Homo sapiens: one gene and its partner. The protein of the gene in region 2 interacts with the protein of the main gene of each other region in a pairwise test. Each region holds a gene or a part of one and is shown on either strand. Other genes may lie near its edges.

Region 1 (3,651 bases), on a different chromosome or scaffold from region 2:
GCATGTCCAGGAGGAGGAGAGTGGGCGGCTGTGTGTCCAGGAGGAGGAGGAGGAGCAGGGTGGGCGGCTGCGTGTCCAGGAGGAGGAGGGTGGGCGGCTGCATGTCCAGGAGGAGGAGGAGGAGGAGCAGGGTGGGTGGTTGTGTGTCGAGAAGGAGGAGGAAGAGGAGAGTGGGCGGCTGTGTGTCCAGGAGGAGGAGGGTGGGCGACTGTGTCCAGGAGGAGGAGGAGGAGGAGGGTGGACAGATGTGTGTCCCAGAGGAGAAGGAGGAGAAGGGTGGGTGGCTGTGTGTCCAGGGAGGCTGCGCTGGGCCTTGGACTGGAGGAGGCGAGGTGCAGACAGTGCATCAAAAGGTGCCATCTAAGGCTGGGCGTGGTGGCTCACGCCTGTAATCCCAGCACTTCGGGAGGCTGAGGAGGGTGGATCACCTAAGGTCAAGAGTTCAAGACCAGCCTGGCCAACATGGTGAAACCCCGTCTCTACTAAAAATACAAAAATCAGCTGGGTGTGGTGGCGCATGCCTGCAGTCCCAGCTACTCGGGAGGCTGAGGCTGCAGAATCACTTGAACTCGGGAGGCAGAGGTTGCAGTGAGCTGAGATCGTGCCACTGCACTCCAGCCTGGGCGACAGAGCAAGACTCTGTCTCAAAAAAAAAAAAAAAGAGAGAAAAAAAATAAAGGTGCCATCTGCACCTGATGCGGCCTGAGGAGAGGGCAGCTCCTGCGCAGGTGTTTCCTAGGGGCACTGGGGACCTGCCCCTGGTGCACTGGGTGGGAGAAGCACCAGCACCCGCTTTTCTCGCTAAATCTCCACCCTGCTACAATTTGAGATGGTCAAGGTGCAACCTCCTTCCCCGGGGAAAAGAAGTGCCAGCTTTTTTTCAAGTGACAATATGGAGTGAGGTGAACAGATTACAAGAATAAATCTGAGGCCTTTCAAAGTAAAACAGACGCTGGCCATCAAAGTCCTGAGCTGAGGTGAGGCCCACGGGGGCGATGTGGTCCTCCCATGAAAAGACAAACCAGGACTAACCCTCGAGCACAGTTAAATCCATTTGGATCAATTACAAGAAAAAAACCCAACTGATTGTTTCTACAGAGTGGCTTAAATGAAGCACGTACGAAATTTCACAACAGTTATGGACAGCTCGTTACAGAACAGAAAGGATTCAGAGAACATGTCACTGCAGGCACGGACTGTGCTCCTCACCTCAGCAGAATACCCGCCTCTGCCCAGGGCAAGACCCACATGTTCTGCACCCAGCCTCTCCCAGGGGGGCCTCACGCCTTCCCCCCTCCCCACACCTTGCTGCCGCGTGTCCAGCCTCTCCCGGGTGGGCCTCGTGCCTTCCCCGTTCCCCACACCTTGCTGCCGCGTGTCCAGCCTCTCCCAGGGGGGCCTCACGCCTTCCCCCTCCCCACACCTTGCTGCTGCGTGTCCAGCCTCTCCCGGGTGGGCCTCGTGCCTTCCCCGCTCCCCACACCTTGCTGCCGCGTGTCCAGCCTCTCCCGGGTGGGCCTCGTGCCTTCCCCGCTCCCCACACCTTGCTGCCGCGTGTCCAGCCTCTCCCGGGTGGGCCTCGTGCCTTCCCCGCTCCCCACACCTTGCTGCCGCGTGTCCAGCCTCTCCCGGGGGGACCTCGCGCCTTCCCCCCTCCCCACACCTTGCCGCCGTCCTCCAGACTCAGGCGCATTTCATTTTTCACCAAGAGCAGCTCCGACTGCAGCTGCCTCTGGCAGACGGTGAGCACTGACATCACGCCTTCTTGCTTGCAGAGAGGTGCATCCTTCAACGTCACCAGGACAGGCTGCAGATCACCCTTGACAGAGGAGACAGAGGAAAGCTGAGCATGCAGGAGGCTGTTGCTGGGGCTGCCCCTCAGGTGGCCTGGAGCTGGGAACCAGTACGGCAGCCAGCAGGGATGCCAGAGGGAGGTGGCAGTGACATCCACAGCCGAGCACCTTGGTCCACAGCAGGCCACATGGGAACGGGGCTGAGGACCCAGCAGAAAGCTGCCCCGACCCAGGACGACCCCACAGAGCAAGGTGGACTGGGGCATCTGAGAGTGGGAGCCACTCTACAAAGACCCAGCTGGTGTGGGGGTGGTAGGCACCAAGTTCCCAAGGTTCTGCTCAAATACAAGTGGAAGCCTTAAAAGACGACTCCCTACAGGGCCTCCAGCTCCAAAAGAAGAGCTCGCTCGCCACATCTCACACAGGCACTGCTCATCGACAGACAAACCATTTGGTTAGAAACCAGAGAAGCAGCTTAAGCGGACCCTCCTCACATAGTGAGCTCCGTTTCACTGGACAGTCCCTATTATGTGAAAGAAAGAATTGTTTTTAAAAGCTTAAAACGATAAGCTTAAAATGGTACAAAACAGTGAAATCCTCAGCCCAGCTTCACTGCGTACTGACACGGAACAGGCCCAGGCTGGCCCGAGCTTCAGGCCCCCTTTCTCCGCTGTGTCATGAGCCACCATGACAACTGCAGCCCCCAGTGCCCAGCGCAGAGAGAAGTCATTGACATCAAAGGAGAAAAGGAGAGTAAAAAAAAATACCCTGCCATGGCCCGCGGGGGGAGCCCACCTGTGGGTCAGGGACAACCGGCTCCAAAGCAGCATCATGGGAGGCCTCCACGTCGCCGGTGACCTGGGCCTTGGCGCCACCATCCATGCGAGGCTGTGGGTGGGCCCCGGGCACCCGTGTGTGAGCTGTGGCTCTGCGGGCCTGCCGCCTGTCCAGCTCCACCTGGCACCTCAGGAACCGCTGGTGCAGCACCTGCAGCTGGCGGCTGAGGCGGGCACACTGCGCTCGGAGCCACTGCAGCTCGGGAGGCGCCGCCCCGGCTGCCAGGGGCTGCTGCTCCAGGGCGCGGCGGATGCGGGCCAAGGCCAACAGGACGGCCTCCAGCTCGGCAGAGTGGGCCGCCTTCCGCTGGTTCAGAGCGTCGATTTCTAAATTTCTCTCGGCAATCGTCGCTTCCTTTGCTTTCAGGGCCGCTTCGAACTCCTGGATCCGGGAGGCCATGTCTTCGACCTCAGCCTCCCTGAGGGCTACATTGCGCTCCAGCTCAGCCAGCTGTAGCTCCGCAGCCTCCTCTGCGCCCTGGAGGCGCTGCTGCAGGGCCTCCAGGGCCTGGCTGTGCCTGCGCTCCTGGTCAGCCAGCAGCCGGCTCAGGGCCTCCTTGGCTTCCAGCGCAGCCTCGAGCTCGCCCTGTAGGGCCTGCCCACGAGGGCCCCCGGCCTGGGAGCAGAGCAGCTCGCTCTGCAGACTGCCAGCCTGACTGTCGCTGACTTCGTGCACCACAGGCCCCATGAGGGACAGCTCGTGCTGCAGCTTCTCAATGACTTCATGGAGTTGTTCAATTTCCTCTGCTTTCTCCTTTTGTAATCGTTTCTGATTCTCTTGCAGATTTTCAATAGTGGCTTTCAGCTCTTCAATCTCAGAACTTCTGGTATATATGACCTGAAGAGAGAGGACATTTCAGAGGCAAATTAAATGTATCCACTTCCGAATGTCCCTACTTCAGGGCACGTTACATCCTGAATGCATTCTTGGAGTGAAGACTCCATAGCGTGAAAAACAAAGCAGCCATAGAAGCAAACTGCTGGTGCCGGATGCACTCCACACCCACCTTGGCTGCCACTGG
Region 2 (3,651 bases):
ATCCCATAGTACTTGCAAGCCCTGTGTCCAGTTTGGAGAGACGTCAGAAGTTCACGCAACGGCACTGACCCAGATTAGGAGCATAAGGTGTGTGCCCTCCACCTACCGCCAGTGAGCCAAGCTGCTGCAGCACAAGCACTATCTTGAGACCAGTCACCTCTGGCATGCGCACTGCTCTGGGGGCCAGGAGTCACTGTACCTCTCCAACACTGGGGACCCGTCTTCATTCCAAGCCTACATGGGTAGCTGAATGCTACAATCCCAGCTATGCAGAGCCTAGGACCATGACTGGCTATGACTTTGGTCCTGCATGGCAGGGAAATCAACCCCTACCATCACACTTTTGGTCAGAGAAACAATCTGGCAGTCTTGCCCAGGGTGAACCTGCCCTTGAGCCAGCCAAACCACTACATACATACCCTCCCCCAAATGGGAGAGGTCTCCAAGCCTACGAGCAGCTGATATGCCCCCAGGCCAGCAAAGCAGCTACATGCCCACACTCAGGACCTCAGAAACAGCGTGCAGCGCCCCTGCTCCCTGCACTCAGAGTTCTGGCCTGCCAAAGGCCCTGCGCCTGCAATCAACGCCTGAGAAATAGTCCTTCGAGCCGCCCCTGGCAGCACACCACCAGGCCAGCCAAGCAGCCAAGAGCCCACTTCCACGGCCCTGTGGGCTATCCCTGGTGGACACATCCCAGCCTGGTCAAACAGCCCTGCAGGCTGCTCCCAGTGTGCACACCCCTTAGCCAGCTGAACAGCCTTGCACCAGTCTCAGACCTGAGAAATAGCCCCATGAGCCCCTAACAGAAACGCCCCCATGCCAGCTGAGCAGCCTTATGCCCACACCTCAGGCCTGAGGAGCAGCCTCACTGCCACCCCAGCTAACATAGTACCAGACCAGCTGAGCAGCCCTGCACCTGCATCACAGGTATACAAATAACCCATGGGCAACACCTGCAGAAACACCCCCAGGCCAGCTGAGCAGCCATGCAATCGTGTCATGGGCCTGAGAAATAGCCTTATCCCCACCCCTAACAGACAAAACCCCAGGCCAGCTGAGTAGCCGTGAGGCCACATATGAGCCCTGTGGGCTGCTTCTGGCAGGCACACCTCCAGGCTGGCCAAGTGACCATGTACCCACACTCCTGGCCAGAGTAACAGACCTGTGGCCCCAATCCCAGCCAACCAGACCCTAAGCTGGCTGACCCATTGTGTGCACATATGCACCCCAACCTGAAAAACTGCCCAGCGAGCCCACCTGGCAAAGCTACATGGCCATCACCGCAAACTCTTTCAGCCTAGGCAACTGAGAGGATTGCAAATGCCACTAATGTGGATTACAGGTGAAGAAGCTACATGGAGACTACACTACTGTATCCATCTAACCAATGCACTCCACCAAACCAACACCTCAGGACCTATTCATAGTAACAAGTCTTTCCCTATGAAACCTACTCCATAAAATTAGAAGAGGCAACTTTTTCTGCCAGATACATAGAAATCAATGTAGAAACACACCAACCATGAGAAAGCAAGGAAATATGACACCAAAGGAAAAGAATGGAAAGGAAAATACTAATTCTCCAGTAACAGACCTTAGTCACAAGGAAACATGAAATGCCAGAAAAATAATTCTTAAGGAAATCATAGTCTTAAGGAAACTCATTCAGATACAAAAGAATACAGATATACAACTAAATGAAATCAGGCAAAGAATACATGATGTGAATTTGAAATTCACCAAGGAGATAGATATCATACAAAAGAACCAAACAGAAATACTAGAGCTAAAAAATTCAATGAATGAAATAAAAAATATAATCAAGAGCTTCAACAACAGACTAGATCGAGCAGAAGAAAGAATTTCTGAACTTGAAAACAGGTCTTTTGAAATAACTCAGGCAAACCAAAAAAAAAAAAAAAAAGGAAGAAGGAGGAACAGAAAAAAAAGAATGAAGAAAGCCTACAGGATTTATGGGACACTATTAAGTAAACAAATATTCATATTATGGGCATTCCAGAAGAAGAAGAAAAGGGAAAAGGTGAGGAAAACACATTTAATAAAGTAACAGCCCAAAATTCCCAAGTCTTGGGAAAGAGATAGGCATCTAGGTCCAGGGTGTTCAAATACTCCCAAATAGATTCAACCTAAAAAGATCCTCTCCAAGGCACATGGTCAAGTTGTCAAAAGTCAAAGACAAGGATCTCCTCATTTTTATTCCCAAAAGGTAGCCAGTGACCAATGACCAGTATTTCATTTCTTATGATTTGTTTCAGGAAACAACCAAAGGAAATGGAGGAGGCAGACATAACATGTGTGCACATTCAGGTGCATGTTTGTACAACATACATATGCCAAATGCAACAAGAACCACACTGCTGTGCATCTTACTTTTTTTCACTTAAAAATACAGCACATATTAACATATGTATCTACCTCAATTTTTAATGACACACTGTTTCTATATGTGGATATATTAAAACGTATTTAACTATTCTATTGACAAAAACTTAAAATGTTCCATTCCTTTCAAATTATTGAAAACAATGCTGATAAATATCCTTTAAGTGCTTGTAATATCTAAATTATTTAGGATAACAAGGAAAAAAGAAAATTTACCACAGAGGCATAAAGTTTTTCCAGGCCCATGTGACAAACCAATACGTGTAACAGCCAAAATTTCCATTTAAAAAAAATGGCTATATGATTATGTAAAAAGAGCTACAGAATGTGGCAAACATTTTGTATGCTTGTTAAATATATACGTAATTAGAATAGGATGGTAATCCTATCTAATCCTTTAGACACACAAGAAATTTTAATAATAAATTCTCAAAGTTGAAAAGCAAATCTGGTAATGATTTTTCTTAATCTAAGTGAACATTAGTTCAGAAAGTATCTCTTCCTTTAAAAAAGAAAAAAAAGAAATCCACAAAACGTCCTACCTTGATGTTCATCATCCTCCTTTGGTGTTTGTTCCAGTAATGTGTCCAAGGCTCGGGTGTAATCTTTCATTACCCAATAGGCAAGACTACGCAGGAAAGGATCAGGATGTAATCTTTTGCAACTGAATCCTGAGCCATCCTTTTGGCAACCCAAAATCTTCTGATTTAGGATGGATATATAAGTGGATGAAGTCTCAAATTCAGATTCATATAAACGGGCAATAACCATGGCTAGCTGAATATCTTCCATTTTTTCAAGACATACCTGCAAATTTAAATATTAATACTTATCTTACTTAATGATAATTATTTAGAGAGATGAAATATCCCATCAATACCCTGAAATTATCTACCATTTATATCCTAATGGTGGGCGAAGGGACAGTGAAGGGTAGTTAAATGATTGATAGGAGATTAAAGAATAGCAAAAAGAGTAACAGGTTGGAACCCAGTAGCTTCCAAACTAGACAGATCATTTATAAAATAAGCATGAAACAAAGTATATTAATATCATCTCAGACTTAAGATCAACTTAAATAACATTCATTTTTAAATTAAATACTATATATGACACTAGAATTTATATACCACTTCCTCTTAATTTCCAAACATATTTCTGCATAATCATAATTATTACTATCTGCCTCATATTTAAATAGTAAATAAATTATGAAATACAGCCATATGTTCTATTCATAGTCTCTGG

Evidence for each region.
Region 1: the proteins of DMXL2 (region 2) and PCNT interact in a two-hybrid assay, tested with the Homo sapiens proteins (one large-scale study listed by BioGRID and IntAct).

What each region holds. Positions count from the first base shown.
Region 1 is NC_000021.9:46,411,005-46,414,655, reverse strand, and holds part of PCNT (pericentrin), read right to left. Parts: intron 3,468-3,651; coding exon 2,589-3,467; intron 1,820-2,588; coding exon 1,664-1,819; intron 1-1,663. UniProt on the Homo sapiens protein: Integral component of the filamentous matrix of the centrosome involved in the initial establishment of organized microtubule arrays in both mitosis and meiosis. Plays a role, together with DISC1, in the microtubule network formation.
Region 2 is NC_000015.10:51,483,128-51,486,778, forward strand, and holds part of DMXL2 (dmX-like protein 2), read right to left. Parts: intron 3,211-3,651; coding exon 2,946-3,210; intron 1-2,945. UniProt on the Homo sapiens protein: May serve as a scaffold protein for MADD and RAB3GA on synaptic vesicles. Plays a role in the brain as a key controller of neuronal and endocrine homeostatic processes.